2 linked regions of the Homo sapiens genome follow. The protein of the gene in region 1 interacts with the protein of each later gene in a biochemical or structural test. Each region holds a gene or a part of one and is shown in the gene's direction. Other genes may lie near its edges. The genes, in order: DNAJB12 and FBXO7.

Region 1 (3,816 bases):
CACAGCCCTGATTGAGTCCCTCAACCAGAAACCACAGACTGCCGGTGACCAACCCCCACCCACAGACACAACCCATGCCACCCACAGGAAAGCAGGTGGGACCGATGCCCCCTCGGCCAACGGTGAAGCTGGAGGAGAGAGCACCAAAGGCTACACTGCAGAACAGGTTGCAGCTGTGAAAAGGTAGATGGGTGGGCAGGGGCTGGAGCCTGGGGAGACTGGGGAAATCTAGAGGCTTCCTGGAGCATGTCCTCCACCTCCCATCTGCCTGTGGGCAGCACAGGGCCCTGGGAGGGTCTTGGAGGATGGAGAAGGTCCAAGGGTCCAGGCTCACCAGGACCTCTCCTTATTTCCCTCAAGGCCCAGGAATACAGTGTGGGAACTGGGGCTCCACCACCCCTCCCGCCACGACCCACAGCAGAGGCTGGAAAAGCTGACACTGCCGGCTTCCTCTGCCGCTGGCCAGGCAGGCCCCAGGCCTCTTTACACAGCTCTGTTTGTCAATAGAGATGGAGCTTTGTCTCCCCCTCCAGATTCTACCCCAACCCACATCCCAGCACCCAACAAAGACCCTTTTAGATCAGAGCCTGTGTGGGGTAGAATGGAGACCAGAGGCAGAGTTATTGCCCCACGGCTGTGAGCAGGCCCCACGCAGAGTAGCTCGCTACCAGGCCAGAGACCACCCAGCCAAGGCTCCTCAGGCTTAGACGTTCCCAGCTCCCATTTCTCCCCAGGTCTCCCAGCAGCTGGCCTTGGGAATCCCCCAGGGTCATGCCACAGCTCCTGGCAAGCTTCAGGACCAAGGCCGCCTGTGTGAGACTGAGCATGACTGCTGTTTGCCATAAAAGTGTAGGCGAGATCTGTACTTCACTGAGTCGGCAAGGTCCATTGTAGGCAATAGAAACTGATGTATGAGGGATTGGGAAGGCCTAGAAACGGCCAAGAACCAGGAGGTCTCCAGGGACGCGGAGAGGAAGAATTGGTGAAAGAGAACCAGGGTCTCTTTAGGCCCTGTGCTTGCGGTGAACAGTCACCTGCCACTTCTGGCCTTCATGTTACCCACTCAAGACTCAGATTGGGCTGAGCATGGTGGCTCATGCCTGTCATCCTAGCACTTTGGGGGGCTGAGACAGGAGGATCCCTTGAGCCCAGGAGTTTGAGACCAGCCTGGGCAATTAGAAGACCCTGTCTCTATCTTTAAATATTTAACATTTTAAAAACTTTTAAAAATTAAAAAAAAAAAAAGACTCAGATTGCCAGGAGAGTCGGTTGGCTGAGCTTGGGACACCACCCTGGGTGATGGACACCGACAGTCCTCCTGAGCTCTTCCCATGGGGAAGATAGATACTGGCCTGGCGAACCCCACAGATGCCCTCCTAAATCCAAGAATCCAGACGGTGTTCTTCTGTTTCCCGTGGTCCTGCCCAGCTCTGCATCACATTTGGTGCCCACTTGGCTCCCTTGTCCCTGGTGTCACACAGCTGACCCAAGGAGCTGTCAGCCTTGCCCTGTTGGTCCCCCGCAGCCTGCCCAGAGCTGTGCGCCCCACACGGCCTGTTCATCGCCCCCCTCACACAGACCCATGTAGAGCACCCCGTACCATGGTCTCCTCCTTCCCCAGGGTCAAGCAATGTAAAGATTACTATGAGATCCTGGGGGTGAGCAGAGGGGCCTCGGATGAGGACCTGAAGAAGGCCTACCGCAGACTGGCCCTCAAATTCCACCCAGACAAGAACCACGCACCTGGTGCCACTGAAGCCTTCAAAGGTAAGCCAGCCCTGCTTTCCTAGCATTTTGGTGTGTTCATCTCCTGTCCATGGCAGGGAGTAAGGGACCAAGACAGCTTTCCCAGGAAGCAGGGAGCAGGAGGAAGTGGCCTTGGGCCCAAGTTGCCCAGGCTTGGGAGCTGCTTCTTGGGAAAAAGGTTCTAGTAGCCACCTCTAGCTATGTAGAGTTGGTCAGAGCTCAGATAGCACCATTCCTGCCCCTGCTTCCTCTGCATTTCCTGGGGTTACGTAGTAGAGCTGAGGCAGGAAAGTTCTAGTAGCTTCTCCAAGGATTCTCAGTGATTGAGTGACTCACCGTGTGCGCTTCCCTGTCTTAGAGTCTCATAGCTGCCCACTGGGGTAACTGTTTCCCTGCTGAGGGGCAGGGTAGCCCCAGGTCGGGGGCCTCAGGCCTGGTGGCCACCTCAATACCAGCAGCCACAGCCAGCTCCCCCGCCATACCTATACACCTGGGGCTTGCAGTGGGGACATGGCAGTCTCTGGCTTCAGGGCCCACTGGCTCAGGATGGGTGCTTCATTTCTGGCTGAAATCGTAAGCTGCCCTTTATTCATTACATTTTCATTTAACCTGTCAGGCGCTCATGTGTACTGACTCTGTGCACTGCAATTTCTCATTGCCCCAAACATTACTGCCTTCTCTCATTCCCACCATGTCTTCCTTCTCTCATTCCCACTTCATCCACCTCCTTGGGAAATAGCATGGTGACTAGCCCCCACTGGCCTGGGCGGGGTGTGTGCTGTGCTGCACCCACAACCATAGCCAGCTGGAGAGCCTGTGGCAGAGGAGACTCCGAGACCTGGTGTGCAGTGTCCCGGGGCCCTGGAGGAGGAGAGTGGGAGTGGGGGGAAGCAAGGTAGCCCTGTTGAATGTTTCTCCAGCCCCAGCCTCTGCCTGCAGCCTGCTCCGACTGTACCGAGAGGCCAGCTCTGGCCTTGAGGCCTATTCAGAATTGGCGGAGGAGACGATTCCGCGCTCCTTATTCCCGGGGGTTTCAGGATGGGAATCAGATGTGGCTTGGACCCACTCCTCGGAGTCAGTGGCAGCTTGAGGAGAGGGAGTGAGAGACTGAGGAGGTCAGAGCTGGGGTCCTTCAGGGCACAGCCGTCCCGGCTAGGGGGCCCTGGTGGGAGGCTCCAGGCCCAGATAGGAAATAACGGTTGGGGCCTGGACCCCAGAGAGTGGGGGACTCACCCCAGCTGCATCACCAGAAGTGGAGGAGTCTCCATAGAGCCCCGAGATTTGGCCCTTCCCCACAGCTCCTGCTGCTTTCCAGTTCACAATAAGGATATTGTGTGTCTGTCTGGCCTGCATGTCAGACTATGACTTCAGGTTTACAGAACCTCCAGAAAGGGATGCCCATCCTATTGGGCACGTCAAGAGAGAATGAGGAAAGAGGTTTTTGGTGGTTTTCATAAAGTCGGAGAGAGAACTTGAAGCAAGAGACACCTGCTTTTGTTTGACTCCCAGCTCTGTAACATATTAAAGCTGTGTAAGCTTAGGCAGTCACTTCTCTGAGCCTCAGTTTTCTCATTGGTGAAATGGAGATAGGGTTGCTCTTAGAGGTAAATGAGTTGACCTGGTGTGGTGGCTTATGTCTATAATCCCAGCACTTTGGGAGGCCAAGGTGGGAGGATCCCTTGAGCCCAGGAGTTTGAGACCAGCCTGGGCAACTTGGCAAGACCTCATCTCTACAAAAAATACAAAAAATTAGCTGAGTGTGGTGGTTCACGCCTGTAGTCCCAGCTACTCAGGAGGCTGAGGTGGGAGGATCGCTTGAGCAAAGGAAGTTGAGACTGCAGTGAGCCACGGTTGCTCCACTGCACTCAGCTTGGGTGACAGAGTGAGGCCCTGCCTCAAAAAATAAAATAAACAAACAAAAAGAAGTAAATGAGGCCACACTCCTAGGAGGCCTGGCACATTGACAAAGCTTGACCATTGTCTTGAGGAGAACAAGGAGCCTGTGTTACCCTCCACCCAGCCAGGCTGCCCAGATCCACTGAGGGGTCTTCCTGCATGCCCCCTCCTTAC
Region 2 (3,816 bases), on another chromosome or scaffold:
TCAATCCCTGTTTCCATGATGCAGTTTTACCTATTTGAACAAAAATTTTGATTAAAAGTGTTCTAATATATTATCTTATACAATATGGTTATCCTACAATATAAAATATATTGGCAATGTTAATGATTTGATGCATTTTATTAAGAGGACTGTGTGGAGTGATTATTTCAAACAAGTTAGGAGTCTTTTGGATTTTTAATCTTTTTGAGAGTAACACCTTTCTTCATTATTTGTTTCCCTTTCATTTCGTTCCCCAGGGCACCGAAGCCAAAGCACTGTCCATGCCGGAGAAGTGGAAGTTGAGCGGGGTGTATAAGCTGCAGTACATGCATCCTCTCTGCGAGGGCAGCTCCGCTACTCTCACCTGTGTGCCTTTGGGAAACCTGATTGTTGTAAATGGTAATTGGATAGCATAGTCATGGTTGCTGGTTTATGGATTCTTAGACGTTTCTTTCCAAATGTTTTATAGCCACTTCAGTGATTGGCTATCATGATACAGTTGTGAGTCCTTCTCAACTGTATTTAATTCCTAGGCCACTGATAACATGTGTCTGGAAGATCATGGAATATGAGGTTGTTGAGTTGTTTAGGCCAGCACCCTTCATTCTTAGGGCATCCATTTTTTTGATGTCTTAATCTTTGTAATATTTTGCTCTGGGGGATAATATTTAATATTATCCAATATTATCAGTATTTGATAATAGGAGTGAAATGAGCCTATTACACATGAACTCCTTGGAGAATACTTTTTCTTTATGCCTGTGGATGGCTTTATTTTTTTAACGAAGGTCTTGAACTGAGACATGGGGAGCTAGACCTGGGGTCACCATTTATCCAAGTTGGCATCCCTGTGACCAGCAATGCACAACAACAATGCTAAGTTTACTGGGGCCTTAGTAAGTATGTGTTTTATTTGCTGGGCCTCCCCCAACAAATGTCACTCTGTATGAATAACTTTTCCTGTTTATTTTTCATATTAAGAAATTTCACTGGAATAGCAATGCATTCCATCTCTGTGTTTTAGTTCAGGTACCACTTTGTTTCATATCAACTCCTAGTGTTCTGTCATAATCACACATACTGGAGATCCATTTGAATGACTAGGAGCTTTCATTTTTGTTCTGTTTTGTTTTTTGAGATTTATCCTTTTAGTTAGAAAGATAGCGTGGTAAGATTGGGAGGGCTGCGTTTGTTGTTTTTTTATTCAGTATAGCTCATCTTTTTCGTTTAGCAAAGGCAGTTGCTTTGGTAAGCCTTAGGTCAAAGGTTTAGGTCAGAGGTTTTCAGTATGTTCTGTAGCTACTCCTTTCTGCTGAGATGAAAGTTAGGTAGAAGCCCTATCACCACTTAAACCTTGAGCAGCAAAATGTTTATCTGTTTCATTTATTGAAGTTCTGTGTAAGATTCTGTTTGAAAAAATGTTGGTTTTTTTTTTTCCTGCTAAAATCTATTTTGAAAGCTACTGACTCATGCCATCTTGATCTTTGACATGTTGGATAGTTCTCATTCCCCTCTTACAAAGTTTCTTTTTTCTTTTTTTTGAGACAGGGTCTTGCTCTGTCGCCCAGGCTGGAGTGCAGTAGGCAGAGCATGGATCATTGCATCCTTGACCTCCTAGGCTCAAGCAGTCTTCCTCCTTGGCCTCCTGAGTAGCTAGGACCACAGGCGTGTACCACCACACCTGGCTATTTTTTATTTTATTTTTTGTAGAGATGAAGTGTCACTGTGTTGCCCAGGCTGGTCTCAAACTCCTGGGTTTGAAGCAATATTCCTGCCTTGACTTCCCAAAGTGCTGGGATTACAGGTGTGAACCATGCCTGGCCTCTTACGAAATTTCTATTTCTTTAGTCATAAGATTCTTTGAAATGTTATTTAAAAGTCTCAAAACTAGGTTTAATAGCTTTGGTGGTACTTCACATTTGTCAGGACATGACTGTCTGATGACACTAGGACCTAGCAATGTCTATTCAGCAGTTCATCATAATTAGCAAATGTAGCTTTTACTTTGGCATTCTTGTACACAGAGTGTCAACAGTTTCTGCCTTCATCTAATCATTCTGCTACATCACATCATAACTTGCAAGGTTGGAGTTACCAAATAGTAAATGTGTAGTTGCAAATTTTGCCTTGATTTTTTATAAAAGCACTTAATGACGTGTATAATAACCTCTATTCACTAGATTCAGGATACTTAATATAAAAAGAATAACTGCTGAATGTCTTGATGATTTCCTAATTTCTGATGTTTTGTTTCTTTACTGTTCTTGGCAAATCAGCTCTTGGCAGACTTGCATGGCAGCCAGCCGTTCCAGGATTGATTCTTTGAAAAGGAGCAGTGTGTCTTTAAATCTTTCCTTCACCCAAGGCATCCTGCTTGGTGCACATGTGCATAAGCACATCACTGGGCTCTTTCATGGAATGAGATGAAGTGCGCCTTTGTATACATGATTAAAATTGAACCCTCTGGTGATGTCAAGTATATTTATCCTTTGGGTCTGGAAGAGAGATGATGCTGTGAAAACTAGCAAGATTATTTTAATGAACAAAGGAAGACTCATTGCCAAGGGTTAAATAAAAAATAAATGGAGTTTTTAGTGACTTCATTAGAAATAATGATTTTATTGTGTTTAGTTGCCTCTGATTAACCTTGTTGCATATCTTTAAGTTACTAATAAGCTGCTGCCTAGTGGATTTTATATAAAGATGCTTACTGTAGTTTTTAAAGGTGGTGTTGTAGAGTGATTTTACTTCATGTGATGCCAGGTTTACACTTTTGAACTTGCTATCAGAGAAAGAAATAGGCGAAGAACAGTTTGTTTTGTATAATGTGTCCTTAGTATATTAGGAGCTAGGAAATGCAAGCCCATACTAAAAAAGAAAGGCAGTTGATGAAGTGACAGAATTCTTTATCATCTTTCTTTTGTTTATTTACAGCTACACTAAAAATCAACAATGAGATTAGAAGTGTGAAAAGATTGCAGCTGCTACCAGAATCTTTTATTTGCAAAGAGAAACTAGGTAATACAAACATTATTTAACTTTTGGGGTGAAACTCTGTGAAATTCATATAAGAAAAAAATCTGAAAGATAATGTTCAAAAGACTGAAAATTTCTATATGAGATTAAAGCATATTGAAGACAATGTGGTTTGTTTAAGAATGCAAAGGTTTAAAAAATGTGAAAGTTTTGCTTATAATTTGAGGAGTTTGTTTCTTTCCTGTTTTTCTTAGGGTCATAGTGTGCTGAATTATATTGTTATGAGATAACACTAGTATGTAATTTATTACACTCTGATGATAGTTCATAGTTTCTGTACTAATCTTTGGAGATCTCCCTATTGAGATCTCCATATTGGTATTTAACCAATATGGAGGGGATCTGTGTTTCATGAAAGTAATTCAATGTCAAGTTCATTATTGAAGATTATTGGAGGAAAAACTACAATCAAAATGTTTGTTTAAACCTATATAAATTTGATGGCTATTTTATACAGATTGATACTTTACCAAAGGTTTGCATTCTAGGTAAGGTTTTGCTTAAACTCTATAAAATTATTAATAGATACAAAGAAGACAGGTTTTCCCTTTTATCATTTTTCAGTTAAACCAAACTGTGAGAGGCAGTTATAGGTGGTTGGAGCAGAAGAGATAAGGTGGAGAGGGGAACTGACATTTTTTAAGTGCCTGTTTCATTCTGTACTTGTGCCTGTACATATGTTATTCCATTTAATCTTCTTAGTAAACTTAGGAGGGTTTTAAGAGCCTAGTGGGAATGTTGTGGTACAATGGGAAGATGGCATTTATAGCAGTCCTTTAG

Evidence for each region.
Region 2: of the proteins of DNAJB12 (region 1) and FBXO7, one has a biochemical effect on the other in vitro, tested with the Homo sapiens proteins (one large-scale study listed by BioGRID).

What each region holds. Positions count from the first base shown.
Region 1 is NC_000010.11:72,341,317-72,345,132, reverse strand, and holds part of DNAJB12 (dnaJ homolog subfamily B member 12), read left to right. Parts: intron 1-5; coding exon 6-183; intron 184-1,621; coding exon 1,622-1,767; intron 1,768-3,816. UniProt on the Homo sapiens protein: Acts as a co-chaperone with HSPA8/Hsc70; required to promote protein folding and trafficking, prevent aggregation of client proteins, and promote unfolded proteins to endoplasmic reticulum-associated degradation (ERAD) pathway.
Region 2 is NC_000022.11:32,484,811-32,488,626, forward strand, and holds part of FBXO7 (F-box only protein 7), read left to right. Parts: intron 1-257; coding exon 258-399; intron 400-2,934; coding exon 2,935-3,018; intron 3,019-3,816. UniProt on the Homo sapiens protein: Substrate recognition component of a SCF (SKP1-CUL1-F-box protein) E3 ubiquitin-protein ligase complex which mediates the ubiquitination and subsequent proteasomal degradation of target proteins and plays a role in several biological processes such as cell cycle, cell proliferation, or maintenance of chromosome stability.